Homo sapiens: one gene and its partners. The protein of the gene in region 1 purifies or fractionates together with the protein of each later gene. This does not show direct contact. Each region holds a gene or a part of one and is shown in the gene's direction. Other genes may lie near its edges. The genes, in order: ROCK1, NUDT5, NAA15, MON2, TAF4, KDM4D and EFL1.

The links.
Region 2: the proteins of ROCK1 (region 1) and NUDT5 fractionate together in Homo sapiens (co-fractionation; one large-scale study listed by BioGRID). This does not show direct contact.
Region 3: the proteins of ROCK1 (region 1) and NAA15 fractionate together in Homo sapiens (co-fractionation; one large-scale study listed by BioGRID). This does not show direct contact.
Region 4: the proteins of ROCK1 (region 1) and MON2 fractionate together in Homo sapiens (co-fractionation; one large-scale study listed by BioGRID). This does not show direct contact.
Region 5: the proteins of ROCK1 (region 1) and TAF4 purify together in Homo sapiens (affinity purification with mass spectrometry, with the first as the bait; one large-scale study listed by BioGRID). This does not show direct contact.
Region 6: the proteins of ROCK1 (region 1) and KDM4D purify together in Homo sapiens (affinity purification with mass spectrometry; one large-scale study listed by BioGRID and IntAct). This does not show direct contact.
Region 7: the proteins of ROCK1 (region 1) and EFL1 fractionate together in Homo sapiens (co-fractionation; one large-scale study listed by BioGRID). This does not show direct contact.

What each region holds. Positions count from the first base shown.
Region 1 is NC_000018.10:21,104,881-21,109,283, reverse strand, and holds part of ROCK1 (rho-associated protein kinase 1), read left to right. Parts: intron 1-4,403. UniProt on the Homo sapiens protein: Protein kinase which is a key regulator of the actin cytoskeleton and cell polarity.
Region 2 is NC_000010.11:12,185,892-12,190,294, reverse strand, and holds part of NUDT5 (ADP-sugar pyrophosphatase), read left to right. Parts: intron 1-3,962; 5' UTR 3,963-4,003; coding exon 4,004-4,066; intron 4,067-4,403. UniProt on the Homo sapiens protein: Enzyme that can either act as an ADP-sugar pyrophosphatase in absence of diphosphate or catalyze the synthesis of ATP in presence of diphosphate.
Region 3 is NC_000004.12:139,304,281-139,308,683, forward strand, and holds part of NAA15 (N-alpha-acetyltransferase 15, NatA auxiliary subunit), read left to right. Parts: intron 1-4,403. UniProt on the Homo sapiens protein: Auxillary subunit of N-terminal acetyltransferase complexes which display alpha (N-terminal) acetyltransferase (NAT) activity. The NAT activity may be important for vascular, hematopoietic and neuronal growth and development.
Region 4 is NC_000012.12:62,595,387-62,598,864, forward strand, and holds part of MON2 (protein MON2 homolog), read left to right. Parts: 3' UTR 1-3,478. UniProt on the Homo sapiens protein: Plays a role in regulating membrane trafficking of cargo proteins. Together with ATP9A and DOP1B, regulates SNX3 retromer-mediated endosomal sorting of WLS away from lysosomal degradation.
Region 5 is NC_000020.11:61,999,597-62,003,999, reverse strand, and holds part of TAF4 (transcription initiation factor TFIID subunit 4), read left to right. Parts: intron 1-121; coding exon 122-269; intron 270-725; coding exon 726-840; intron 841-1,371; exon of another isoform or gene 1,372-2,186; coding exon of another isoform or gene 2,187-2,853; intron 2,854-3,080; coding exon of another isoform or gene 3,081-3,253; exon of another isoform or gene 3,254-3,272; intron 3,273-3,278; coding exon 3,279-3,448; intron 3,449-3,745; coding exon 3,746-3,876; intron 3,877-4,403. Other genes in the region: uncharacterized protein LOC105372704, read left to right, coding at 2,187-2,853, 3,081-3,253. UniProt on the Homo sapiens protein: The TFIID basal transcription factor complex plays a major role in the initiation of RNA polymerase II (Pol II)-dependent transcription.
Region 6 is NC_000011.10:94,990,355-94,994,757, forward strand, and holds part of KDM4D (lysine-specific demethylase 4D), read left to right. Parts: intron 1-4,403. UniProt on the Homo sapiens protein: Histone demethylase that specifically demethylates 'Lys-9' of histone H3, thereby playing a central role in histone code. Does not demethylate histone H3 'Lys-4', H3 'Lys-27', H3 'Lys-36' nor H4 'Lys-20'.
Region 7 is NC_000015.10:82,150,559-82,154,961, reverse strand, and holds part of EFL1 (elongation factor-like GTPase 1), read left to right. Parts: intron 1-2,538; coding exon 2,539-3,497; exon of another isoform or gene 3,498-3,511; intron 3,512-4,403. UniProt on the Homo sapiens protein: GTPase involved in the biogenesis of the 60S ribosomal subunit and translational activation of ribosomes.

The sequences.
Region 1 (4,403 bases):
TGGAGGATACAAGGAAATATAAGTCATGACTCTTTCCCTGAGAGTCCAATCTATTTAATGGAAGACAAAACCTTGTCTCACATATATACACAGAAACAAAGCTAAACACTTCACAGATTGAGAAAATGTGATAAATTCCAGATGATTGTTTAGATAATGTATGTTCTTGGAAATTGAGAGAAAGAAGTCACTGTGAGTTGAGAGAGCCAAAGTATGTTTTATAATGGATGGATAGGATTTAGGTAGAGGGTACTCAAGAGGAGTGGAGGATAACGTGAATAGAGGGTGGAGACATGACTGGCTATGACATGTTTGGGGAAACAAGGAAGATAAGGTTGGAAGGAAATATTAGCGTTAGATTGTGGAGGATTTGATTGGTAGGCTAAGGATTTTGGATTGCCTTTACACTGTTGTGGCTATTAAATATTTATAAATAAGACCGTGCTAGGATGAATGAAGAAGATGAATCTGGTGTGTGGAAGATGGGTTAGCATGGGAAAAGATTGGAGAGACAGTGAGATTGGACAGTTTTTTAAAATTGTTATTATTGTAATAGTCCAGAAATGATTGAAGCCCAAAATTGGGGCATGAGAATGAGAAAAGAAGAATTAATGGAACTTTATTGGCAGGGAAAAGATGGGGAACCAAAGAGAGAGGCAATAGTCAGATGACTCTAAAGAGGTTGAGCCTGGATTATAGGGAGAATGGTAAAAATAGCAAAGTCAGGTTTGGAAATTGCTTGTGAAGAATAGGCCTACAGATAAATTCAATTTTAGATTCGTTGTGTTTGAGGGGATAGTGGAGCAATCATGAGAAAATGACCTGTAGACTGTTGGAGATACAGAACTGAGCTCATAATTACAGATAATGATTTAGAAGTCATTTGCACAAAGGTGCAAGTTGATATAATGGTAAAGGGAGAAACAATGGAGGGAAAAATGAGGGTGAAAGATGAAGGTTGAACAAAGAGGAAGAGTGGAGGAGGTAAGCCATCAAGGCCTCCAGAGTTAGGACAGCCAGGTATCATGGAGCCCAACACTTCTAAAACAACATTTTGTTAAAGAGAATAGTCAACAGACAGATTTGGTTGTTTTTTCCCCTTCAAATCTTATAATCTTGTCCTCTTTTTCTGTTTAGTTCCACAGCTGTTTATTGATAGCTGTTACTGAAATTTTATTACCCCGTCAATCTGAACTTGGTAAAGACTGAATTTTCCTTTTTTTTTTTCTGAGATGGAATCTCACTCTGTTGCCCAGGCTGGAGTGCAGTGGCGCGATCTTGGCTCACTGCAACCTCCGACTCCTGGGTTCGAGTGATTCTCCTGCCTCAGCCCCCACGAGTAGTTGGGATTACACGCGTGCACTACCACGCCTGGCTAATTTTTGTAGTTTTAGTAGAGATGGGGTTTCACCATGTTGGCCAGGCTGGTCTTGTACTCCTTACCCCAAGGAATCCGCCTGCCTTGGCCTCCCGAAGTACTGGGATTACAGGCGTGAGCCACCGTGCCTGGCCCAAGACTGAATTTCCTTTAGAGACAAAAAATCCTTTTTCTGGGTTTGTAGTATCTAGCATGAATTTTCTTCGCATGATGTTTTATGTTTAACATTGAGCATTCGTTCGTTCATTCATTCATTGTGTCATTCAGGGTGACCTATCAGGTGACTTCAGCTTTTTCAGTGAGTCTGTTCTTGTTCTTCCCTATCTGGACTTTGGACCTCTCATGTATTATAGGAACAAAACTCCTTTTACATTGGTTGCCTTTTTCTGTTATTTTGACTTTTGTTGATTTGTGTAACTGATACTTACTTATTAGTGTGTATTATGTGCCACGTGCAGTCCTTTAGTTCTAGAGTTGTTTTTGTAATCCCAAAAATAAGGTTTTCAAATTGTTTCTTCTCTACCTCCTTTACTAGATTCATGCTTAGAAATGGAAACTTCCAAATCTTTTGGTTTCAGAAATTTGCTGGTGTATGTCCTTTTAAACTACCTTACCTACTAAACAGCTTTTTTGTTGAGACACTAATGATGAATAGCATCCGTAATCTGAAATTTGAAGTGCTCAAAATCTGAAACTTTTTGAGTGCTGACATGACGCCATAAGTGGAAAATCCACCTGACCTTGTGAGATGGGTTGCAGTCAAAATGCAGTCAGAACTTTGTTTCATGCACAAAATTATTAAAATATTGCAAAAAATAACCTTCAGGTTGTTGTGTATAAGGTATGTATGAGACGTAAATGAATTTCTTATTTAGACTTGGTCCCCATCCCCAGGGTATCTTATGTATATGCAAATATTTTAAAATCTGAAAAAGTCTGCAGTCTGAAACACTTCTAGTTCCAAGCATTTTAAACAAGGGATACTCAACCTGCAGTAGTTTAGAATAATGTAGCTGGAAGAACTCTGATAAGTGGCTATCCAATCTTTTCTCGAACACCTGTAATTTTTTTCAAGAACTAAGTAAGTTCAATCTTCATATCATGTATAAATGCTAAAATAGTCTGCAAATACTAAGATACATTATGATAACCATTCACTTGTTTCCTAGAGCATTCAAATTAGTCAACTTTGGTTTTCTGTAGGTCAGATTCTTTCCAGTGTCCTAATGGTTGTCTTTCTTACTGTCCATGTTACAGTTTATAAGGATTATCGGGAGCTATTTCTCTTTTCCGGACTTCCTTATCTTCTAATTATTTTGTCTAGGGCCTGTAATAATTTCTCAGTGATTTTGAGTACCTTTGAAAACAGAATAAGGGATGGAGTTTAGTTAAGTCTATTTAATCTTTGCAGAGGAAAAAATGCTTATGATTTGTAAATTAAATAGGAAAAACAAGGCCGGGTGCAGTGGCTCGCTCCTGGAGGGCTGAGGCCAGAGAATTGCTTGAGCCTAGGACGGGGAGGTTGCAGTGAGCCGAGATTGTGCCACTGCACTCCAGCCTGGACGACACAGTGAGAACTTGTCTCAAAAAAAAGGAAAAACAAAAATGGTTGGGAGGGTTATAGATACATTTGTTTTGAAGTTTGACATACTTTTCATGAAAATATCTTGCTTGTAGCATATTTATTGGCACATCGCTTCATGATGCCTGTTAAGAACATGACCTTTCCACTTCTCTTCTGGCTGGTGGAGGTGTAGCAACGGGTGAGCGGAGGAGACAGAAGGGAACCAGTATTAGTCAAATAGTGCCTGTTGAGTTCTAACACTGTGCTGTTTGTCACTACTATTTCTTATTAGGGAGTTTTTCAGAATGTGGAAGATAAATGTAAATGAAATTTCTGGTGTTAGTCTTTGAGTTTTTCTTCCTTTAAATTATCTTCCTGGGCTCTCTTGACCTAGTGCTTTCCCATCTTTTCATTCTTCTTTTTTTCTTTTCCTCAATCTTTGGCCTATCATACTTATCTTTGTCTTCACTCTCTTGAAGAATTCATCCATTCTTACAGCTTCAATTATTATTATCTCTATGTACATGATACCCAAATCTTTATTTTTAGTCTTTTGTTTCAAACCTTAAATATCTGACTGCCTTGTAAGCATTTCTACTTGGATGTCATGTTAGTCTCAAATCCCTCATATTCCAAAACAAGCTTCCTCCCATAAACTTATCTGTTTTGTCATTAATTCCACTATTGTCCCTGTCGCTAAACTGAAATTTTTGTTGTGAACTTTTTTGACAGTGTTAGTCCACACATTGGGTTATTACAGCAGATTTTGGGTAGCATTTTCGAATCTGGATTATTGCTGTCTAATCCCCTGTATGCCTTGCCAGTTGAATTGATCTGTTTTGGGGGTATATTACTCTTGGAATGAAAAGACCTGAGGTCATTAAATCTTTGAGCCTTAAAGTTGTATCTCTGCCAGTGTTCCTAGTTTGTGAGTTAATAGGTGTTATTAGTATCAATTGCATATCTGGTTAGTTTGGACCAGACTTTTTTGGATGTTAGTATGTTGCAGGAACTTCTTTTAAAAAAACAAGTTACTCTCCTAATTCATTTTTATTCATTCAGCAAATCTTTGTATAGGGCCTAAACTTGGATTGAAATCTAGGCTCTGACATGTATTTGCTGAAATATTTTAGGGAGTTATTTTAACCTCTCAATGCTGTTTCATCTTCAGAAAAATAAGAGGGGATAAAAGTACTAGATTGTTGTAAGAATTGAATAATATAGTCAAAGCAACTATCATAGCATTTGGTATTTAGTAAGCATTTGTAATATTGTCATATTTATAATATTTCTGTTATATACTAGTCAGTGTGCTTAGTCTAGAAGTTGATATTTATTGTCGTCTCTAAGTACAGAGTAATTTATCTGGCACCTCAAGCCGCTCATAAATTCATAATCTAGCTGTGCGTTATTGACGTCTAAGCCAATTGTAACTGAAAATTGAGACATTTATTAATAGAT
Region 2 (4,403 bases), on another chromosome or scaffold:
TAGACCTTCAGTGTTCAAACTGAACTGAGTTAAAACGATTTATGAGAATTAAAACAGCTTGTGACTTTAAAGACTAAGGAAAATCATAAATGAAATTGTAGAACACTCGCTGGCGCGGTGACTCACGCCTGTAATTCCAGCACTTTGGCAGGCCGAGGCGGGTGGATCACGAGGTCAGGAGATCGAGACCATCCTAACACGGTGAAACCCCGTCTCTCCTAAAAATACAAAAAATTAATCAGGCATGGTGGCAGGTACCTGTAATCCCAGCTACTTGGGAGGCTGAGGCAGGAGAATGGCATGAACCCAGGAGGCGGAGCTTGCAGTGAGCGGAGATCGCGCCACTGCACTCCAGCCTGGGCGACAAGGCAAGACTCTGTCTCAAAAAAAAAAAAAAAAATTGTAGAACACTCAACATCGTGTACATGTATCTTTTTCATACCATACACATATTGGCAATATGCAAATTACCTTAAATTCTAACTAATGAAGTGGATAAAATTTATATCAAAGTTTGCTTTTAAATCTTGAAATAGCGTTGAGTCAGTGAAGGCAAACTCCGTTGCAGTGGCGGAGACGCTGGCTTACAAAGCACGGAATTTAAAGCTCATTTCTCGTTCTTTCTGCAGCGTGTTGCTGGCAGTGACTGGCCCCCGAATGGCACTATTTGGCTTCTGCTTTTGAAATGGTGCTAAAAACAACATTCCTTTTCTGTTTCTAAAAATTTCTGAGGTACTTTTACAGTCCTTCTGAAATGTTTGGGAATCTCATAGTTAAGAATATGCTCTTGAAATAGCTCATTTTTGTCATTCACGGAATCAGTGGATTGCTGCACGATACTGTTTCCCTTTGAGGCTGATTGCATTCCAAAGAAATACTCTCTTTTAGCGGCCAGGCACGGTGGTTCACGCCTGTAATCCCAGCACTTTGGGAGGCTGAGGCTGGTGGATCACCTGAGGTCAGGAGTTCGAGGCCAGCCTGCCCAACATGGCAAAACCCCATCTCTACTAAAAATGTAAAAATTAGCCGGGTGCAGTGGTAGGAGCCTGTAATCCCAGGTACTCGGGAGGCTGAGGCAGGAGAATCGCTTGAATCCGTGAGGCAGAGGTTGCAGTGAGCCGAGATCATGCCTTTGCACTCCAGCCGGGCAACAAGAGCGAAACTCCATCTCAAAAAAAAAAGTTTACCTAATAAATTATCATCTATGGTACTTTCAAAGGAATAAGTGCCTGTTTTCTTAGTAGGGCTGCAGGTTTCAATATGCTAATGTCTGTCTCTAAATATTTAAACTTCTACGTGGTTTACTTCCTTATTGCTTTCAGGTCTCCATTCAGAAGTCACCAAATTAAACAGGCCTTGCCTGATCACTCCGTGTAGATTACTCTTCCCATCTTCCCCACACTTCTCATCCTTTTTAATCTTTCTTCATGAAACGCTGAGTCACTTGACATAAATTTTGTGTTCTTCCTCACTGTTTTTCCTTTCTCCTCACTGGAAAATGAGGTCCGGGGGAGTGAGGGTCTTTGTCCCTCTCACCACCACTTTTTTTTTTTTTTTTTTTTTTTTAGATGGAGTCTTGCTCTGTCGCCAGGCTGCAGTGCAGTGGCACGATCTCAGCTCACTGCAACCTCCATCTCCTGGGTTCAAGCCATTCTCCTCCCTCAGCCTTCCCTGTAGTTGGGGCTACAGGCGCACCCCACCACGTCCAGCTAATTTTTGTATTTTTAGTAGAGACAGGGTTTCACCATGTTGGCCAGGATGGTCTCCATCTCTTGACCTCGTGATCCACCCGCCCTGGCCTCCCAAAGTGCTGGGATTGTAGGCGTGAGGCGTGAGCCACCGCACCCGGCCTCACCGCCACTTTCCTAAAACATCATCTCACCTTTCACAGGTTGGCCACAAGGGTTACCTATGATAGTCAATCAGATATTTGATTTGTAAACGCACTTTATGAATATTCATACAGTTGGTTTTGTTATTGATTGTATTTTAGAATAGGGAAGCTTGCTGTCTTGGGGACAAATTGAAGATCAGATGGGTAGTATGATCACTTTGGGTCCCAGAAGAAACAAAGAGCAGACTCACTTTTTCCTTTAGGACAGTTGGGAAGAGAGTTGATGCTGGGTGGGCTGTATTTTCTTTGAAGCCGAAGTTAGGTGGGGTAGGTTAGAGAACCGTGGAACGTAAGAGTGCAGTGGCGTGATCTCGGCTCTCTGCAACCCCCAACTCCTGGGTCCAAATGACCCTCCTGCCTCAGCTTCCTGAGTAGCTGGGACTACAGGTGCCCACCACCACACCCGGCTAATTTTTTTATTTTTTATTTTTGTGGAGACAGGGTTTTGCCATGTTACCCAGGCTGGTCTCAGACTCTTGGTCCCCCAAAGGGCTAGGATTCCAGGTGTGAGCCACTGTGCCTGGTCCAAGTAACAGTTCTTAAAAGAAACAACAGAGAAAACACAGGGGAGGAAATCATCAGTGAAGTCGTTCAAGAAAAAAATTCCCTGTAAAGAAGCATAGTAAGAAGTTTCCAGATTGAAAGGACCCACTTGACTTCCCAGTACAATAACATCGACATGAAAGTGACTAACTACAAGCTTCCAGAGGAGGAAGACAGGTCACATGGCAAAAAGATCAAGAATAAGAATAGCTTTGGACTTCTCAACAGCAGCACCAGAAGTAAGACAACTAAGCAATGCCTTACAGTTTCATAGACAACTGGCTTTGGGTCTATAATTCTATATACAGCTGAATTAACAACCATGTGTGTGGGTAAGAAAAAAAGACTTTGACCTTCGGACAGGCAAGGTCCGAAAATGAAGGAATAAAGAAAGAGGAAATAATAATATACAATAAATGGGATAAGGGCCTGCTCTTTTCATAACAGAACTTGTAGTACTACTCGATCCTTTCTCTGCAACTATGACTTTGATACATGCTGAAACTTAAAAGTAAGTGGGGAGGTGGGTCCAGTGGCTCATGCCTGTAATCCCAGCACTTTGGGACACCGAGGCGGGAGGAGGATCGCTTGAGCCCGGGAGTCTGAGACCAGCCTGTGAAACATAGTGAGACCCCACCTCTACCAAAAGTTTAAAACATTAGTTGGCTGTGGTAGCATGCACCTGTAATCCCAGCTACTCAGGAGGCTGAGATGCGAGGAGCACGTGAGCTTGGGAGGTAGAGGCTACAGTGAGCCATGATTTCGCCACTGCACTCCAACCTGTGCAACAGAGTGAGATCTTACATCTCAAAAAATAAGTAAGTTTAGGTGTAACAGATGGATAAAAGACTGAGAGGTGGGCATGGAGAGTGGTAAATCTTTCTTCTGTCTTCCCTTGGAAAGAGTTTAAGATTCGGAGTCAGAAAAATCAGGCTGGGCGCGGTAGCTCACGCCTGTAATCCCAGCACTTTGGGAGGCCAAGGAGGGCAGATCACTTGATGTCAGGAGGTTGAGAGCAGCATGGCCAACGTGGTGAAACCCTGTCTCTACTAAAAATATAAAAATTACCAGGCCTGGTGATGTATGCCTGTAATCCCAGCTACTCGGGAGGCTGAGGCACGAGGATCACTTGAACCCAGGAGGCGGAGGTTGCAGTGAGCTGAGATCGCGCCATTGCACTCCACCCTGGGCAACAGAGTGAGACTCTCTCAAAAAAAACAAAAAAGAAAAAAAAAAAAAGAAAAATCTGATGAAGAAGGGTGGCCTCTAAGTGCCTAGAACAGGCATGGCAGGAGCTTGGCTGTTGTGGCTGAGGGTGACTAGGACTGCTGTCACTTCCTTCCTGGCTAATCCCCGGGCCTCCCTGTTCACATTTCCACCTGCGGCAGTTCCCTCACATACTGAGACAGGCAGCGTTGATGGTAGATGAATTTTTTGCCGTTTAAGTACTTTGACTAGTGTCCTGTGGACGAATGTTTAATTCAGAAAAATAATTTTAGCCTGAACAAATCTCATTATCTTGCAGGGTGAACTTCTCACCTGAGGGCTGTAAAGACTCGTTTGAAAATGGAGAGCCAAGAACCAACGGAATCTTCTCAGAATGGCAAACAGTATATCATTTCAGAGGAGGTATAACTTGTTTTTCACTTTCCCTTCCCTCCCCCACATAAATCTGAGTTTAGCAGAAATATATAGACTGTTGTTACAATGGTGGTCTTTCATTCTTGAAGACAGTTGTAAAGATTTTTCCTACTCCCTTTTTTGGGCTCGGGCACATTTTGCTCTTGTGTGGGAGGAGTAGTGTGTCTCTCTGTGTATTAGTGAAATTGAGACTCTAGGAGATTTGGGCTCTTAACAGAAAAATTCTTAATCCTTCCTGTATTTCCCTAGATAGAAGAAGAAAGAATATATGCATTTGCGGACTCAGATATTTCATATGTAGTTGTCACAACTTGGCTGTTGATGG
Region 3 (4,403 bases), on another chromosome or scaffold:
GTTTAAGGAATAATACAGTGCACTTTACTCAGTTTTCCCAACACTAATACCTTGCAAAACCATGGTTCATTATTATAACATTGATACAATCCACCAGTCTTATTCAGATTTCCCCACTTTACTTGTACACGCGTGTGAGTGCTCGCGCACGCGGGTGCAGTCATCCCTTGGTATCTGTCGGGGGTTGATTTCAGGATCCCGCGAGATTCCAAAATTTGCAGGTGTTTGAGTCCCTTATGTAAAGTGGTGTAGTATTTGCATATAACCTATGCGAATGTATACTTTAAATATCTCTAGATTACTTATAATACCTAATGCAATATTACTGTTATATAGTTATACTGTATTTTAAAAATTTGTATTTTTTATTGTATTTTTAAAAATAGTTTTTACCTATGGATGCAGACACCAAGGATAATGAGAGCTGACTGTATTTACTTCTATGCAGCGTTATCCCATGTATAGATTGCACCACTACAATTAGGCTACAGAACAAGTTCCTTCAGTCCAAAGTACCCCCCTCTGTTGCCCTTTTAGAACCACATCCATTATCTCTCCCACCGCCCTCCCATCCCCTCTCGCTGCAGGCTCCAGCAACCGGTACATGTCCTCTATTTGTATAATTTTGCCATTCTTTTGGGTTTAGAGATAGAGTCTTCCTCTGTTGCCCAGGCTGGAGTGTAGTGGCTATTTATAGGCTCTATCAAAAGGGCACTGTAACCTCAAACTACTGGACTCAAGCAGTCCTCCCGCTTCAGCCTCCGGAGTAGGGGGGATCACTACAGGGCTACTACATCCAGCTAATAGTTTATTCCTTTTTATTGCCAAGTAGTATTCCATGATATGGATGTACCACAGTGTGTTTAACCATCCATATAATAGCAATTTTTGATTAAACATCTTAATTTTTTTGTGGTAGTGTTAGTGGGGCAAAAACCTGTAAGTTTATTGCCAAAATCACAGTGCTGAAGATCTATTGATAAGTTATATGTGAGAGAAATGTGGAAGTCACTAAATGAAGGAAGAGTAAAGGAGCTAAAATGTCCTTATTGTTCTCATACATTAGGAATGAAGAAAGTGTTACTGACCAAAAGGATAGTATTGATTTTTTGAAATTGCTTCTGTTTCTTGAGATTTGATAGTAAGTTAGTGCTTTTAAGATTTTTTTTTTTTTTGCCCGGTCTGATAAAGGAAATGTTGGACATAATGTGATGTGTGTGCTCTATGTAATCAAGTGTTGCTAGGTTGGTAACTTGTTGTTTTTTTTTTTTTTTGAGACGGAGTTTCGCTTTTGTTGCCCAGGCTGGAGGGCAATGGCATGATCTCGGCTCACCGAAACCTCTGTCTCCCGGGTTCAAGCAGTTCTGCTTCAGCGTCCTGAGTAGCTGGGATTACAGGCGTGTGCCACCACACCTAGCTAATTTTGTATTGTTAGTAGAGATGGGGTTTCTCCATGTTGTTCAGGCTCGTCTCAAACTCCCAGCCTCAAGTGATCCACCCGCCTTGGCCTCCCAGAATGCTGGGATTACAGGCCTGAGCCACTGCTCCTGGCTGCTTGGTAACTTGTTAAATCATTCCTGCAGCATTCAACTTTTGAGCTGCTACTTTGTTAGTTGTACTGTACTTGTTATGATAAACTTAAGTAGGAAATACAGTTAGTTTGTATTTCAAAATAAACATTTTTTTCCTTAAATTTTTAATGGAAACCTGCTTTACACATAAGTTTGCAAAAATTTTAGAGTTTCTGCAGTGGATTTGCCTGGCTTGATCTAGTCTAGTTGATCTCTAAAATTCAGTTTTGTTGTATATTTTTCTCTTTTTTCCAATATTACTCTTCTGTTTTCTGACTAAAGCATTGTCCTAAGTTAGTCAAAATGCTTGCATAATGTTTCTTGCTGATAATTTGTCTAGAAAAAGGATGGGATGAATTTAATGTGACATATACTATGTAAGAGTTTATTTTATTTTGTTTGTTTTTTGAGACAGTTTTGCTCTGTCACCCAGGCTGGAGTGCAGTGGTGTGATCTTGGCTCACTGCAACCTCCACCTCCTGGGTTCATGCCTCAGCCTCCCAAGTAGCTGGGATTACAGGCGCCTGCCACCACACTCGGCTAATTTTTTTTTTTGTATTTTTAGTAGAGATGGTGTTTCACCATGTTGGCCAGGCTGGTCTTGAACTAGTGACCTCAAGTGTTCTGCCTGCCTCGGCCTCCCAAAGTGCTGGGATTACAGGCATGAGCCACTGCACCTGGTCCTATGTAAGAGTTTAAGGAAGACTTGTGTTTGCCAGAAGCTGGTTTTTTTTTTTTTGGTCTGGTTTTTTTTTTGTTTTGTTTTGTTTTGTTTTGTTTGTAATTACAAACTTTTAACTTATTTGGAAAATTAAGTCATTAGAAAATTGTGGCCTTTGCCTACTGTTGATGCTATTTGTTTATCTAAAAGTTTGAGGAGGTTACCAGATATTTATACCACTTTGTTAGGATCTAGGTTAAGGGTAGGAAAAATGAGGTTGCCAGAGTAGAACAAAATCCACACCTTAGATTTTAACCTGCTTGGAAAAGATGGACATATCCTAATGCCTTTCAATCAAGTATTGGTAGGTTGGTTGCTGTTGCTGCTGCTTCCTTCTCTCTTTTTTGCTCTTCAAATGTTAATGTCAGTTATAAGAAAAATCTAAGTTGGGAATAGTTAAAATATTGTACATCAATAAATGTAGTTTTGGACTTTAGCCTGAATGATTTAAATTGTTAGTTGTAAGTGTTAAAGGACAGAATTTTTCTTTCCTAGAAAAGTGGTGAGAGAAGTTAAAATAGCATGATGATTATGTTTGTGATTTGTCACTATTTGCCAGGTAAAATGAGAAATCTACCATTTGCCAGGCTCTGCTCTAGGTGCTTTAGAATAGCACTGCACAGTAGAATTTTCTGTGATGATGGAAATATTTGTTATCTGCTCTAATATGATAGCCATTGGCCATGTGTAGGTTTGTTTTTTGTTGTTTTTGTTAAGACAGGGTCTAACTCTATCACACAGTCTGGAGTGCAGTGGTTTGATCACGGCTCACTGCAGCCTCCACCTCCCGGGCTCAAGCTATCCTCCTAGCTCAGTCTCCCGAGTAGCTGCGACTACAGGCGTGCCACCACGCCTGGCTAATTTTTGTATTTTTGGTAGAGACGGGGTTTCGCCATGTTGGCCAGGCTAGTCTTGAACTCCTGGGATCAAGCAGTCCTCCTGCCTTGGCTTCCCAAAGTGCTGGGATTACAGATGTGAGCTACTGTGCCTGGCCTGGCCACATGTAATTATTGCACACTTGAAATATGGCTAGTGCAACTGAGGAAATGAATTTTTAATTAATCTTAATTTAAATTCAAATAGTCACATGTGGTGAATGGTTACCGTTTTGGACACAGCATGCTTTATTTAGAGTCCTTTCTTAATTCTCAAAACTTTTCAAGGTGGGGACATTTTTATTAAGCAAACAGACTGAGATTAAGGTCAACAGCTAGTGTTAGTTACAGTCTGGAATAAAACTTTTTTTCTTTTCAGGGCACTTAACATCACACCTGCCTAGTGTTTAACTATTTAGGGGAGGGGTGTAGGAGGAGGGTGAGGGAATTGTTAGGCAAAGGAGTAGTAATACTTATTAGGTGGCTGTATACATTGTATAATAAGTAAATTATTATTATTATTATTATTTTTTTGAGACGGAGTCTCACTGTTGCCCAGGCTGGAGTGTAGTGGTGCAATCTCGGCTCATTGCATGCTCTGCCTCCCGGGTTCACGCCATTCTCCTGCCTCAGCCTCCTGAGTAGCTGAGACTACAGGCACCTGCCACCACACCCAGCTAATTTTTTGTATTTTTAGTAGAGACGGGGTTTCACCGTGTTAGCCAGGATGGTCTCGATCTCCTGACCTCCTGATCTGCCCGCCTTGGCCTCCCTAAGTGCTAGGATTACAGGCATGAACCACCGCGCCCGGCCCATTGTATAATAGGTAAATTATTTTATGTGATTTATTTTCTTTGGGAAAGTTAATGTTTCTGCTAGTTAATGATACTTAGTTTAGCTTCAGTTGCTGATGAAATTTAGATTAGGAATTGTTAGCAAGTAGGTGTCCATATGCACATGAAAGTTTAACTGATTAATTTCTTTGTGACAGAATTCCAGTTTTGCAACTAAGAGTGGACAGTAACTTTGAAATTGGTTTTAATATACTTTTGCTTGTACTTCATATATTTAGAATATAACAAAAAATCAAAAAATGGAAACAAAGTTTGGTCTGTTCTGAAATCCCATTCAGCTCTTAGTAGTTAATCATAAGTTTATTTATTTTTTTGAGATGGAGTCTCACTTTTGTCGTCCAGGCTGGAGTACAGTGGCGTGATCTCAGCTCACTGCACTCTC
Region 4 (3,478 bases), on another chromosome or scaffold:
TGCCCGCCTTGGCCTCCCAAAGTGCTGACATTACAGGCCTGAGCCACTGCGCCCAGCCAATACCATGAGTTTTAAGCCTCACATCGTCACTTGCTGTCACTGCCAGTGCCTGTTTTATTCATATTGCTGGACAACAGACATATGCCACCAATTGTATGATTAATAAAGTCTTTTTCTGGCCATTTTGTCCATTATAAAGGAAATAAACTAATTGTTAACTTGCATAGATTACTTCTTAGTTTCCTATGCTACCACCACTGCCAAGGGAGAAAAAAATACATCATTTTGTAATGTCTTTAGTATTTCTTTATAACTAGTGTTAAGGTTTTGTTAATTTTATTGTATACATTTGTAACATTTATTAGGAGCCTTTTAGGTTCCAAAACAAACAAAAGGCATAAAAAAGTCTAGCTTAGAACCACTTTTCACTTGCTTTCATTTTTAATTTTATTCACTTAACAGCTAACATCTTTCTTGTTTCTTGTTTTTTCCATTATATGGTTATCGATTCAACTCTTGCTATATTCCTTAAATTTGTATGTATCATCAGAAGAAAGAGATGAACAATTTAGTGTAGATATTTTATTCTGGAGAATAATATTCAATTAAATTATTTCTACAGCAGGCCAGTAACAACTAGATTATTTGTCCTTTCTCAGTATAATTTTAAAGAGCATTTTGTTTTATTGTCACAATTTGGTACCACTAGTCCCAGGTAACCATTGGGCCAAAGGATCAGTTGAGAAACAGTTAAGGATGAATTAGCATAAGTTATGGAACAGTGTTAGAAAACAACTCAAAAGTATATTCTTTATTAATGAGGTGGTCATTATTACATTTGTGTCAATGAAGGGCAGTGTAGTTATTTTAAAATGACTAATATTTTCTCCCCAAATACAGAATAATTCAGATGGGCAACCAAGTTTTCAAGAGACTGCTGTAGGTGAAGTCTGTCTAGCCAAGGCAGAACACTTACAGGAGTCCCTAACTGTGCCACCCTTGGAATGGGTTAGTGTACAGGCTCAGAATATTGTGGATTACAGTTTTTCAGAGAAAACTACCACAGATGTAGACAAAAATGATCTCTGAAAGCATTGCCAGCAGCCAGGTATGTTCCTTAGATTTCCACTTAGGTTTGGCATTTTGGCAGATAAGCTAATCTTGTATAAAGCATCACATTTTACTATGCTTAGTGTTCCTGGGTTGTATTTATCTACATTATTAGAGGGAATTTTTATTTTAAAAAAATTGTCATTCATGAGAAGAATGGGAGTTCATGCCACATAGTATTTTACCAATTTATATAAAGTGGGAAAAGTCTTTAATACTTCATGATCACTTGAATTAAAGTTTTTGTATCTCTGGAAAGTAGAATAGTGCTTTCATTTGAATGAAAAGTGTTTATAGATTCAGAAAGAGAGATGATATCTTTGTATCTTGATTTATATACAGACCATTTCAGAGGAAGTTAAATGTCTTACAAATCCAATACTTTCTAATGCTCTAACAGTGTTGGCTATTTAAAAGAACATGTGGCAAGTTCTATATGAATATTCTTGGTCATCTCGACTAATTCTGAGGCAATGATGGACAGAGATGCTACTTCTTATTTAACTCTAGGCATGTTGACTTTTCAAAGCGGTTTCCTTATTTCTAAACAGAGATGATGATCAATGAGTTACTAATTCTTTAGAGGAAAAAATGCATAATTTGAGTGTGGAGTTGATTTTAATGACAGGGTAATTCAAGTTGTTTGATAAATTTATTACTATATTGTAAGAGAGATCTTTGACCATTTTTCTTCCTTTTTCTTGGACATCACTTTCTTCCCTCCCCTTCTCTCTTTTATGTTTTTATCCTTGTTAAATTTTATGTTTACGTTACCATCTTTCTTATACTTTCCCCTGATTTTTCTCTTTTAATTCCTCTTTCATTCTCTGCCTCTTCTCTTTCAGCTCTTTCTCTAATTGTGCCTATTCCTTGTTCATAAGAAGTGGAGCTGTTAGTGGTAGAACCACTGCTCATGGTTCTACCACTACAAAGTGGAAAGTAGAAATACTTTGCACTTTGGCCACTGTTGCGTTTTTGCCAAGGTAAAGTTCCCCTGCCATTTTGAAATAGCTGAACAAGTTAAAGTAATATGTTCCAAAAACTGGAAGTGCCATAAAAAACTAAAAATAAAAAAAAATTGTGACTATAACTCCTACTGTCTTTATGAATACACGGGATTCAGCAGCCAAGATGCTCACAAAATGGGATTGCTATAAATATGATGGATTCAGCACCTAAATTTGGAATAATCATGTCTTTTCTGTTATGTGGGTAGAGAGATTATATATCTTTTCTCAAAGTAAAGTATTTAAAACCTGTTTAAATGAGGGTTTTGGCTGGCGTGGTGGCCCACACCTGTAATCCCAGCACTTTGGGAAGCCAAGGTGGGAGTATCACTTGAGGCCAGGAGTTTGAGACTAGCCTAGACAACATAGCAAGATCCTATCTCTAGTTCAAAAAAATATTTTTAATTAGGGTTTTGGTTTTTTATGATTTTGGGGGGTGGGGGAGATATTTGTTTTTTTGAGGCAGACGTTTAAACTTTTAGATTTATCCCATCTTAATATTGATTTATATTGACACTGCCTACTTACAAGAATAATTTGAGGCAGCATATTGCCCATGTATTTCAACTATTTTCATTTTTCTGTTGCAAAGCAGTCTTTGATGGAAGACCCGGAATCTTATAGTTCTCATATCTGAGTCTTTCTGGAGTGTATTTGGTGTCTGTGTGATTGGTTCACCCAGAGGTCACCCAGAGGTCAATTGAAACCTTCCTAATTGTACTATGGTATTGATTCTATCCCCTCAAGTATGAAAAAATTAAATTTTCAGACCATTTTCAGTTGCTGCGAATGTAGTTACACTAAGTTTTATTTTAAACTAAAATTCAATAAACAGTGCAGCCAGGGAAGATCTGCTAAACCATGCCGTTATTTGGAAAATCATTGCAATATATTAACAACTGCTTCCTTCTATGATGTTTACTAGATGGAGAAAAATACTCCATACCTATATTGCAATTTTATTTTTATCTAGAAAAAGAAAATATTAGGCTTCAGACCCAACTGTGCAAATTTCATTTGCTTTCCATCTCTTACTACTACCTCTGTGTCATAATTTAACACGTAACATACAACTCCTGTCTCTTAAGGCAGCTACCATATGGTGTTTATGTCAGACTGGATATATTTATCTAATTTTGTGAAATTATTTTTTAGTTCCCAACACAATTCTTGAAAGTAATACCACTGTTGTTACTCTTTCTCCTTACAATTTTTATGTTGTTGAGATGTATCAGTTATGTATTATAATCATGAAATTGTATTGGCCTCAAACCCAAATTTTCTTTGTAGTCTAGGATAGATTTTTCATGAAAGCTATATAGTTATAACTGTGATTGTACAGATTGTTTATTTGTTTTACA
Region 5 (4,403 bases), on another chromosome or scaffold:
AGGACTTCTTACTGGGGGCGTGGGGTGCAAAGGAAGGGAAGGGAAGAACCTCCTGCTAGGGACTGAGTGGCCCCTGGCCCTCGGGGAGCATGCTCACCATTCTCTGCTGGCTCTGCCTCAGGTCATCCAGCAGCCTCCGAAGCCAGGAGCCCTGATCCGGCCCCCGCAGGTGACGTTGACGCAGACACCCATGGTCGCCCTGCGGCAGCCTCACAACCGGATCATGCTCACCACGCCTCAGCAGATCCAGCTGAACCCACTGCAGCCAGGTGAGGGCCTCGCGGGCCCCTGGCCGCTCAACACCAAGGGCTGCTCCCAGAGCCAGCTGCCATTGGGCTTTTATTTAATTGGGTAAAATGTACATTTACATAAAATTGGCCATTTTAAGTATCTAGTTCAGTGGCACTGATTTCATTTACTGTGTTGTGTAACCATCACCACTGTCAGTATGATTTTTAATTTTATGTATTTTCCATGGTTAGCTTCTTTATCTGTAATCATTCCTGCACTTTAAAAACCTTGATGAAATACAGGAAAATAAATGCTCGAGAGGTACAGCTTACACTTTGTACTGTAATTTAGAGTTATTAATATGAAGTTTTTGGAAACTTTCTTGTAGCTAATTAGGAGAGTGGTAGCTGTGCCCTTGAGCCTGTAAAGCACCAAAGCACATAGTTGATCTAATAAAAGCCTTGTGTGGTTTCCACTGTGTGTTTGTTTTGTAGTCCCTGTGGTGAAACCCGCCGTGTTACCTGGAACCAAAGCCCTTTCTGCTGTCTCGGCACAAGCAGCTGCTGCACAGAAAAATAAACTCAAGGAGCCTGGGGGAGGTTCGTTTCGGTAAGGAATGGGCCTGTGTACGTTGGAGAAGCGTGGCCAGAGCGGAGAAGAGTCCAGAGTCCGTGCTGCTCCATTCCCGCCCACGGGTCTTTCCCACGTGGCCCTGGCGGCCGGGGCTCCAAGGCTCCTGCTTCACGCTCACTTTGACCTCACGTTCACACAAGTGTGTTTTCCCATACAGTTGGCTCAAAGAGGTTTTGCTTCATACACATAGCCAGAAAGCGAATCAACTGATTATTTTTATATGAACTAATAGGAAATTCATTTTTTAGTATAACATCGTATTTTGAGTTCATTGCATTCCTAGTATAGAATGCTTCACTTTCCATGTATTCAACTTCAGAACCCTCAGAAATGCTGTACTGCTCCAGGCGTAGTGGCTCACGCTTACAGTGCCAGCACTACAGGAGGCTGAAGTGGGAGAATCGCTTGAGCCCGGGAGTTTGAGACCAGCCTGCACAACATAGTAAAACCTTACTCAACAACAACAAAAAATAAAAAATTAGCCAGGCTTGGTGGTGTGTGCCTGTGGGCCTAGCTACTTGGGAGGCTGAGGCAGGAGGATCACTTCTGCCCAGGAGTTCAGTGTTACAGTGAGCTATGGTTTTAGCAGTGTACGCCAGCGTCGGTGACAGAGTGAGGCCCTGTTTCTAGAAAAATAACTGCTGTGCTTTGCCTGGGCCTCCTGGAAAGCAGGTGGTCTGAGCATCACCTCAGTCAGGGAGGTGCTTATGGGACCTGAGCAGTGGGAGAGTCTTGGAGTGATCTCTGTTGTGATCAAGGGGCGGTGGAGTTGTGTGTATTTCAGGAAGTCTTACTGTGAATTTTCCCTTTCCCAGACACTTCATCCCTAAAGGCATCAGGCAGGGCATAGCAGGCCTGGGGAGTGGCTGTGGCCTGAGCCAGAGTCCCAGCCCAAGCAGGGAGAGGTGGCCAGCATGCCTGGGCCCAGCGTGACGCTGATACTTCAGTGAGAAGGGAGGGCACTTAGGGACATACACGGGTGAAAGAATTAATCAAGGCTGCAGGAAGCCTTGGTATTTTGCTGTCAAGGAGTCAGCGGCCTGGCAGAAGGGATAAAGGAGAGTGACCCCTGTGGGCTGGCTCAGGATTGGAATGCTGACGCAAACCCCTGGGTTTCAGTGTGTCGGCAGGCATGGATAACCATGGGTCTTGCCGTAAGTTTCTAGCTTTGTTCACCGCAGGGTCCTGGGAACAGTAACGCCCCAGTAACACTGAGCACACCTAGTGTTCAGATGTTGTCTTCTAAAAACCGTTTTCCACTAAAATGACAAGGACTCCTGAGAGAAAAGGCTGATTGCGGGACTGGGATAAGGAAATACAAGATGAGCGGAGACCGTCCTGTGTCAGAGAGCAGTGGACATGGGCATGACGTGGACGTGGATGTCAGCAGAGCAGCCTCCCTCCCATGGCCGGGTCCTTCAGCTGGAGCCCTAAGCTGTGCAGCCCAGCCACAGCCCGTGACCACCAGGGATGCCAAGACCCTGAGTGAGCACCTGGAGCCCATAGGAGGACTGGGCATGAGAACTGCTGTAGAGCTCTTCCCCGAGACACAACGACCCCAGGAGACGCCAGGCAGGCCCCCGGCCTCACGTTCAAAGCCCACTGCTGGAGGCGGCAAGTGGAGGCTGCGTGCATGTGGAATTCCCGGCAGGACTCTTAGCTCACATCTCCTCACGAGGGGGCCGAAGTCAGCCTGGAAGAGGACGTCCTGCACACAGCTGGCCTGTGCCTTCCAGGTGTCAGGGGCAGCCCAGGAGTCAGGAGAGGCTGAGGAACCTTCCAGCTTGAGGAGCCGGACAAGACGTGGCAGCTGGGATTGGGATGCAGACTGTCCTGCAGGGAGAGGCGCTGCTGGGACCGGGTCCTACGGGGGAGGGCCTGGGGAGGGGCCATTCATCATGGCCCGGTCTCAATGGCATCCTGCTTCTGGAGGGGATGCCCTTGTCTGTAGGAAACACGTGCAGAATGTTCCGGGTGGAGGAAAGTCAGGTTAGCAACTTTCAGGTGATTCAGGAAAAAATTGTGCGTACTCTTCTTCCAACTTCTGAGCCTTTAAAAAGAATTTAATGCTGCCTCTGGCTTTAAAAAGCTTTGCATAGATCAGACCCCCACAAGTCCCCGCGCTGCTCCCGGCTTTGCTTTCTCTGGACTTGAGTCCCCTGCGCATCTGTGTGTAGATGTTAACCCGGCGCCAACTCACAGCTCTCCTTCCGCAGAACAATCGAGCTTTCCAGGAAAGCAGCGAGGCACCCTCTCTGCTGTGGCAGATGCAGCAGGTGCAGGTGCGGGGAGGACAGAGGCCTGGCCTCCTCACGGCCCTGCCTTCCACGTGGGGTTTCCTGCCCTTACCACCCCAGCCCACCTCCCGATGAATTCCTTGTACAGTTAAAGTGATCTTCCCTTCTTTCCTCAAGGGACGATGATGACATTAATGATGTTGCATCGATGGCTGGAGTAAACTTGTCAGAAGAAAGTGCAAGAATATTAGCCACGAACTCTGAATTGGTGGGCACGCTAACGCGGTCCTGTAAAGATGAAACCTTCCTCCTCCAAGCGCCTTTGCAGAGAAGAATATTAGAAATAGGTACGTTGGTGTTTAATGACTGAGTTCTTATTAAACAGCTGCGCTGCTGGGGCATGGGAGCTTCAGGTGAGCACACCTGACACCTGGTCATGTGTTTTGTCTGAGTTTGTGATTTCCACATGGTTGCTGGTGGTGGTTCTTGGGTAAAATATGGGTACCACTGCCTTCCACCCCACCAGCCTTTCTGGGCTCCCCTTGGGTTGTATAAAAGCAGTAACTGCTGGATCAGAGATTAGCCGTAAAGAAAGAACTGTGCTTAATGATTTTAAAATACTGTTTTTCTTGCCTGACCTTTAGGTAAAAAACATGGTATAACGGAATTACATCCAGATGTAGTAAGTTATGTATCACATGCCACGCAACAAAGGCTACAGAATCTTGTAGAGAAAATATCAGAAACAGCTCAGCAGAAGAACTTTTCTTACAAGGTAACAGGCTGTTTGCCGAGGAGAGCGTCTTTATGTTGTTGGCCCCCACTCTCTGCTGGCTGGGAGCCTCCTCCCCACACCGAGGCAGAGGGCGGTGGGTCCCAAGTGCCTCCATGTTCCTTACGAACGTGTTTTGGATTTCTTATAGGACTAGATTTTGGAAAGATTTCTTTTTGAGGTAGGGTCTCACTCTGTTGCCCAGGCTGGAGTTCAGTGGCGCAGTCTTGGCTCACTGCAGCCTCCGCCTCGTGGGTTCAAGCGATTCTTGTGCCTTCGCCTCCCAAGTAGCTGGGATTACAGGCGCACACCACCGTGCCCAACTAATTTTTGTATTTTTAATAAAAGGGACAGGGACTCGCGATGTAGCCCAGGCTGGTCCTAAACTCCTTGCCTCAAGTGATCCTCCTGACTTGGCCTCCTTAAATGCTGGGATTACAGGCATGAGCCTCTATGCCTGGCGGGTTTACCTTTTGGAAGGCACCTGCCTCTCTCTCTGGGCCATGGGCTGAACTGGCAGACCCTGAGGT
Region 6 (4,403 bases), on another chromosome or scaffold:
TCAGATTGGTCTGGAAGGCAGAGTTTATAACTTAGAAAAGAGAAGGAAGAGATAAGTGAAGCAAGGGAAGAAAAGCATAGAGTCAAGGACAGTGATTAGGACCATTTGACTGGAACTACGTTTGTATAAGAAAATTGAGAGAGAAATTTGGGAAACAAGAAGCAATAAAGATGTGGTTTAAACACAATCATTTACTTTGTTCCCTTTCCAAACCTCACTAAAGTGACAGTAACAGGATTTTTGTTTTAAGAAATGAACTTACAAAGACAGAAAATGGTAAAGGAAAACAGGTAGTGGCCAGTTTTGGAAATTGGAAAGCAGATGGACAAGTGTAAACTGATTTATCAAACACTGGAAAGTTGAGTCCTAAATTGGCAATGAGGAAAGCCAAGAAGCAACACAATTGTCTCTACAGAACCCAAAAGGCTTAGGATGTCATGGCATTAGGTACCTCTGGGAGTGACAGTTAAAATGAGGCTAAGGAGAATTTGTTGAAATCTGTCTAACAAAACAGAGCCCTAGGTTCCCACCCTCCTCTAAGCAGCTGGATAAACTGCCCCTCTTACACCCTGGCAGAAGATTGAGCTTCATTTTTTCTAGAGTGAGGAAAAAGGTGGCCTCTGGACTGGGAATTTCCAGATACTTTTGAGAGTGTGGTTGTCATAGGGAAAATAAGTTGATAAAGTGAACTGTACAAGTAGGGTACTTTTAGAAATGTGTAGCCTCTTTTGCCATTTGGGAGGGAAGTCAGACCTGTACTCTCCAGGAGAAAGACTGAAGCATCTTTTGCATTGAATATGACCAGCTCTAGAAATATCAGTGTTAGGAGTTCACCTAGGAAACAGCCCAGTTAGAATATCATTCAGGGAAGCATAATCACTAAAACAATTCATGTACCCTGAGCTTCTAATCTGCCTTTTTTGTGCTGTACTTTTTTATATAAGGCAATTACTAAAGGCTACCAGACATGTGAGGAAAGCCTTAAATATGAAAGAGACCAAAGCAAAAAAAAGAAAGAAAGATAAAAAGGACAAAAGTCAATTTCAAAGAAACAGACCATGCAGGGAGAAAAACAAAACAGAATTTCAAAAACCATTGAGATTTTAGTATTTCTAGAGAGGTAAAAGAAGAAATGCTCCCATGAAGCAAGAATAAGACAATAAGAAAGAAAAGCAATGTACATACATGCAGGAACTCTCAGGTAACAGAAATGATCACTGGAAATTAAAAATTTGATTGGAGAAATGAAAAAGACAAAGAGAAAGGAAGTTTAGAGATAAAGATGAAGAAATTTTTTAGAAGATAAAATATAGTGATAAAGGAATAGAAAACTTGGGGGAGGGGAAAACAGGTGAACATTAGAGGTCTAATCCATGAAAGGTCCAATATCTAAATAAGAGGAGTTAATACACAGACGAAAAGGAGTAGAGGAAATCAAAGAAAGAACTAAAAAAAAAAAAATCCTAAAATTAAAGAACTTCATTTTTGAGATGGATAAAATGTAAGAATATGGGTTCAAAAAAAGCTTCTATAAACGTTGATAGAGAGACAAACAACCTAAAATAAACAACACACATAATGAACAGGTCATCTGTAAAGAACCAAGAATCATATTCATATCCTCTTCATACTCATGCTCACACCAATACCCACACAATAATTTCAAAAGTTAATAACCCCCCCTCTCCGAAATACAGAATTAAAGGTATAATTAAAATCAGAATTAAAGGTACAATTAGCATATACAAAGGAAAAAACTATAGGATAATATTTATCTCCATCTAGATGAAGAAGTATTATAACTTTCTAAACATGAAAAACATGAAAAATATTACAAAGGAAAATAAAATATTGTAAGTCAAAAACATTTTTGTTAAATAAATTTAAAGAAATACAAGTTAAATGACAAACTGGCAAAAAAAACTATTAACATATCTAACAAAAGGGTTTAATATGTAAAATATTCATGTAATTAATATGTAAAATGTTTATATAAGTAGGTAAGAAAACACCCTGGGACCCTATTAGAAAAAAACAGGCAAAGGATATGAACCAATACATAAGATGAAATCCAAAAGACTAATATTTATGAAAAAAATCAAAATCAACCTTAGTCGTTGTCCAAGAAATGTAAATTAAAACTTGATCTAACTTTTTAACTTACCAAAATTAGTAAAATATATATTTTTTCAAAGTAAATTTGATCAGTGTTCAGGATGTAAAATATATTTTTTCTTTAAAGTTTTGGCAACGTGTATTAAAGATCTTAAAATATTTAAATTCTATAATGTAATTTCATTTATAAGTATCTAATCTAAGAAATTTCATTCATTCAACCAATATTTTACGGGATGTACTGTTTTAGATACTGAAATACGGACTACATATTTAAGTAAAAGTGATTAGTAATAATCGTGCAAAAGTAAAAACAAAATAGCTGTCCAATAATACAGGATAAGTTTAATCACTTGTCTACACAGAGTAGAATTTTTTCAGTTATCAAATATATTATGCTTATAAATTATTTTAAATAAGTAGTAGATTTTCTAACTGAGAAAAAAATTTGATTAAACATAGCATTTAGATATTGACTGTCAGAAGAAACAAGGGCTGATGTCTGAGGCATTTTGTTAACAATCCCCCACTTGAAGTAATAGATTTGAAATACATATGCAGCAAGAAAGACAAACAGTTTGGGCAAGGGCTGCAGTGAAAGGGACTGTTAAACTTACTCAGCTTCACTTCTTAACTTGCCCAGTTTAACACCCCCCAACACACACACACAGCAAGAAGCTTAGGAGGCATTATTTCTAAAAGACCCGAAGAAAGACTTTCTAATTTCCAGAAATCCATTAATTTTAAGGGATCAAGTATTATTTTTTAATTATTCTGATAAGAAAATACTTTTCTTTGGTTGTCAGAACTGTCAAGTTTTCTTAGATGACGAATTCTGCCTTATTGTGATTACTGTGGGTAAGGGTAAAATGGAAGAGTATCAAGTGACAGTGTAATTATTCTCTACTGGTAGCTATGGTTCCAGTTGAAAGAAGCAAGTAGTCTCACAACAAAAGCAACCATTGAAGACTCATAGAGAAGTGACACATTTGGCTAGAACACTGAAGGATCTCTCCATCATTGTACCTGGCAAATTCTAAGCAGTTTTTTTTTTTTTTTTGGAGCGCAGTCACACTTACAAATTGTAGTATTTTCTTTTGATATGCAACATCTGAAGACTATATGTATAAGGAGACATTGCATCATTCTTCCTAGAATCCTTAGAAATGTAGAAAAGAAGTAACGCAGTTTATAAAACAGATACAAAGTGCTCAACCCAAAGCTTATTTTACTTGTATATTCAAAAAAATATATAGGTTTGTGTGATTTTCATAGTCAGCATTTTGTTACTTCTTGAGGGAAAGACCCTCAGCATGATATTTAAGTTTCTGATATTTAATTATCCTTCTAAATTGTCTCACTTTTCTCTTTTCTTTTCTTTAGAGCAAGTTTTCTAATAGAAAGAATGAAATATTTTATTTTATATTCCAAAAATATAAAGAATTTATAATAAAATCATTGTAGAATAATTTTTAAGATTAAAAAATTGGGATGAGATTGGGAGACTATCATATGATACAGGTAATCTTGTCACTTGTACATCCTCAGTGTCTCGCTTGAGTAGTGACAGCTTTAAGTAGGAGAGGAAGACAAGCTGGATTCTTGGGTTCTTCTATAAGGAAGATAAAGAGAACACACCCTGGGGTGTCTAGATGTCCTTGGGGCCTCATGGAAGACTATCATTGGATCCTCTGACAGGCACTGACCATATGTCTGGGAAAAGGGAGATGTAATAGTCAGTGGTGACTACGATAACACATTATTGCCCTTGATAGAAATAAAAGACATATAAAGGAGTAACTTAGTTTCAGGAGAAAGATCATCAATTTGTATTAAACCAGTTGACTTTCAGGGGCTCACTGGGCCATCTAAGTTGGAGAAGGAGAGCAGAAGCTTAGGAGAGAGTCAGTTATTGGAGAAAGTTATGACAATAAATAACATGTTTAAAGGGAAACAGCATGGTACTAACAGAAACCCTGAATATAAATAGGAAATTTTAAGAGAGAAAGAAAGTTAAGAGGGATAAAAATTGAACTTTGAGATGTCTGCATGTGTGTGGTAGAAGAGGAGGTAGAACCCAGAAGAAAGAAAAGAACCAGTGTTAAAAGAAGTATCAGTGCCCTGGAGGTTGTAGGAGTTTTAGGAGGAAGGGGGAGGTGTTCTGTGAACCAGTGATGTTCTGTGAACCAGATGTTCACAGAACCACTGGTTCTGTGAATCAGTGAAGTGTAACCCCTGGAGCAGAATTTGGGAGGCAGTTTGATGATTTATGGAGAACAATGTCAGTA
Region 7 (4,403 bases), on another chromosome or scaffold:
AGCAAGACCTCATCTCTAAAAAAATAAAAATAAATTAATCGGGCAGGTGGTGCATGCCTGTAATACCAGATACTCAGGAAGCTGAGGCAAGAGGGTTGCTTGAGCCCAGGAGCTCGAGGCTGCAGTGAACTGTAATCACACCACTGCACTTCAGGCTGGGTGACAGAGCAAGACCCTGTTTTTAAAAAAGAACAAAAAGAAGTGCAGTCCAAACTGAACTGTGGAGTATAAGGGGTTACATGGTTAGGTGATTTAAAAAAAATGGAGGCTATTACAATAAAAATCAGGATAGCAGTTACCTTCATACTTAATGGCATTGGGGCCCTCTGAGGGCTAAGACTGTTCTGTTTCTTGACTATACCATGTAGTTTACATGGGTGTTCACTTTGAGGTAAGTTATCATAGATCAGTAGATTTTTGTTTTGTGCACTGTTCTATATGACTATTACATTTCACAATTATGCTTACATTAAGAATGTGTATAATGTTATAGAATTTGTTTAGTTCTCATAGGACAGAGCCTACCTTTTGGTAGTATATAATCTTTTTCAACTTCTACACACATCTTCAGGAATGGATTATGTCCAGGAATGGGAGACAAGGAGACTATATTGTCTCCAGGCCAGAGAAACTGTCAGAATTCTTAGCATCCAGATCTCAAGGTAGTAATAATCAGAGCAGGAAGCCACAGGAAATTGCCATGATGTAGCCTGAGCCTACCGCACTTTTTTTAGTGTCATCACAGGCTCTGCATTGCTAGGACTTAAAGAACCTTTGGTCCTGAGGTGCTTTGTGAGTGTGGCAACCATCACACACTTCCTTCCACAGCTTGGAGTGGTTTTAATTAATCATATAAATGATTACTACAGGAGACTTCTTGGGAGCCTCAGGAATTAGAAGGACTAAAGTGGCTCATAGCTCTTTTGACTATGTTACAGGAATAAGAGGGCAGTGTTGTAGATGTGTTCTCTCTCGTAGTTTCAGAAGCTTTGCCGTTGGTTTTCTTGAGTGTTCTAAGTATATGAGCATATTTTTCTCTATGTAATGATAATTTTAGAAATATTTTCCTATTCCTAAGATTTTTAAGTGGCTTTTTTCTTAAAATCAAGAATAGGTATTGAATCTTATTGAATGCCAATTTAGCATATTTAAAAGTGGCTACATAGATTATTTGATATTTTTAATGTGGTATTAACAGATCTAATACAAATTAATTTTCATATAACCTATAATACAAACTTCGTAGTGTTGTAGTAAATTATTCCTTTAATGTACTGAGTAACTTCATTTTTCAGTATAGCATAATGACTGAGAGTGTGAATTCTGAAGTCAGACCTAAATTTGAATCCTAGCTTCTTCACTTACAGACTATTTGGAGAAATTACTTAATCTTTCTTATCTGGTTTTCTCTTCTACAAAATTAGATAGTACTAGTGCCTACTAAAGAAATACTACATGTAAAACACTTAACACAGTGCCTCATACATAATAAGTTTTTTTTTAATGCACACACCTGCATATCCATAGTTTTTGTTATTTTATCTTAGATTTTATATCTGAATTCTTAGGTAAGATTGAACTGCAGTTTTGTGTATATATACTGTCTTTGTCAGGTTTGAATATCAAAGTAGTTTTAAAAACATACAATGTCGGGTCCATCTTGTTGTATATCCTGTGAATATACAAAAAGATTGTAAATATACAATATACAACAATATCAAATTTGATATTATGTGGGAAAAGGGGCTTTCTGAACTTGGTGGCAGACTGGGGCTCAAGACCTATGATGTCCAGAAGAGTAGCTTCTACCCACATGCAGCTGTTTAAAATCAAATACAATTAAAAATTTAGTTCCTCAGTCATACTAGCCGCATTTCAAATGCTTAGTAGCTATATGTGTCTATTTAAATTTAAATAAAATTAAAAATTTATTCAGCTGTACTAGCCACATTTCAAGGGCTCAGCAATCACAATAAACATATAGAACATTTCCACCATTGCAGAAAGTTCTTTTGGAAAGTGCTGCTCTAGACAAACTCATGGATCATGCTAGCCTTGCTATAAGCCTCATTATCAAAGCCAAATACATTGTGAAGATTTGACTAGCTATCCTGAGGTTCTGTGATTCTATGTCTATTTAGAGTTTTAATCATTGAGCTTTTCTTCTCCACACTCTTAGATGGGCAAATACTGTTTTAAAGCATTCATATTTCATATATTAAAACATTTATTTTCTGCTCAAAACATTCTTATCTAAATGGGTGGTTTATATATCTTGAAAATGAAAAAAAAAAAAGTGAAATTCCAGTACATGCAAGGATTTCCCTGGAGGTATATTCCCATTAGAAGTAGTCTTTTCAATCAGAAAGAAAGCAGTTTTTGAATGTTATATAATGTAAATTGCAGATCTTTCATAGTAAGATAATTTTTATGTTCCTATGTTTTTACAGAATCTCCACTGTGTAGTAATTTCTACACAGGAGCTTTGATGCTATTTTGATTTTAACCTTCTGTTATTTCTCTTGAATTTGTCTGTAGGTTTGCAAAGATTCATATCAGTGTATCTGAACCTATTATTCCATTCAGAGAAACAATCACAAAACCCCCAAAAGTTGACATGGTCAATGAAGAAATAGGCAAACAGCAAAAAGTTGCAGTCATACACCAAATGAAAGAAGATCAAAGCAAAATCCCTGAAGGAATCCAAGTTGACTCTGACGGGCTAATCACCATAACAACTCCCAATAAACTTGCCACGCTCAGTGTTCGAGCCATGCCCCTTCCAGAAGAAGTCACCCAGATTCTGGAAGAAAATAGTGATTTGATTCGTTCTATGGAGCAGTTGACATCCTCTTTGAATGAGGGTGAAAATACTCACATGATTCATCAGAAGACCCAAGAGAAAATTTGGGAATTCAAAGGAAAACTGGAGCAACACCTAACAGGGAGAAGATGGAGGAACATTGTTGACCAAATCTGGTCATTTGGCCCAAGAAAATGTGGGCCCAACATACTAGTCAATAAAAGTGAAGATTTTCAGAACTCAGTATGGACAGGTCCAGCTGACAAAGCTTCAAAAGAAGCCAGTAGATACCGAGATTTGGGCAATAGCATTGTGAGTGGCTTCCAACTAGCAACCCTCTCTGGCCCCATGTGTGAGGAGCCTCTCATGGGTGTCTGTTTTGTTCTGGAAAAATGGGACCTAAGTAAATTTGAGGAACAAGGAGCAAGTGATCTGGCAAAAGAGGGACAGGAGGAAAATGAAACCTGTTCTGGTGGAAATGAAAACCAAGAGCTACAAGATGGCTGCTCTGAGGCCTTTGAGAAGAGGACATCACAGAAAGGAGAATCTCCACTCACTGACTGCTATGGACCTTTCTCAGGACAGCTAATTGCCACCATGAAAGAAGCATGTCGCTATGCACTGCAAGTGAAACCTCAGCGCCTGATGGCAGCTATGTACACATGTGACATCATGGCCACTGGTGATGTTCTCGGTAAGGAAGAAAAGGTAAAGATAGTGAGAAATGCCCTGAATAACAGTGAAGTCTCCTAGACTCAAAATCTTGTTTTTGAGACAGGGTCTCATTCTGTCGCCCCAGCTGGAGTGCAGTGGCACAATCTCGGCTCACTGCAACCTCTGCCTACCAGGCTCAAGCAATCCTCTCACCTCAGCCTCTCAAGTAGTTGTGACTACAGGCACACACCACCATGTGCAGCTAAGTTTTTTTGTGTTTTTTGTAGAGACTGAGTTTCGCAACGTTGCCCAGGTTGGTCTCGAACTCCTGAGTTCAAGTGATCCACCCACTTTGGCCTCCCAAAGTTCTGGGATTACAGGCGTGAGCCACTGCACCTGGCAGACCCAAAAATCTTAAACTCGTTTAGTATGTTTTGCAGAAGCTGTACCATCTTCTGATTTACTAACAAACTAAGATCTTTGAAAGCCAGATATCTTAAGTATTAAAATCTTGAGAGGGGAAAAACATGACTACTAAAGATCTTTTCTTTTGCAACAAATAGAATCCTTTCCGTAATGAGAGGTCTGCTAAATGAGGTTTAAACTGCTCATATGTGTTACCATCCAAACCTGTGCCATATTTTATCTCAAGCAAATAACCATATCAGTCTGGGTAACCAAAGTTGTTCTGAAAATGATCAAAGAATAAGGCAACATTCTTGTACTCATAACACAAAAGGGCTTTTGTGAATTCTGGGTTCTTTCTGAGAAAGAAAATTATTTGGGGCTTTATTCACTGCTAACCATTATATCAAATCCTATTCCTGATTTTTCTCTCTTTGGGAGAAGCAACCTTTAAGATCCCAGGAGACATGAAGCCCTGGCACTTAGTAGCTCTTTGGACTTTTCACTGGTATTAGTTCACTGAGACTTAGTTTCTTTACAT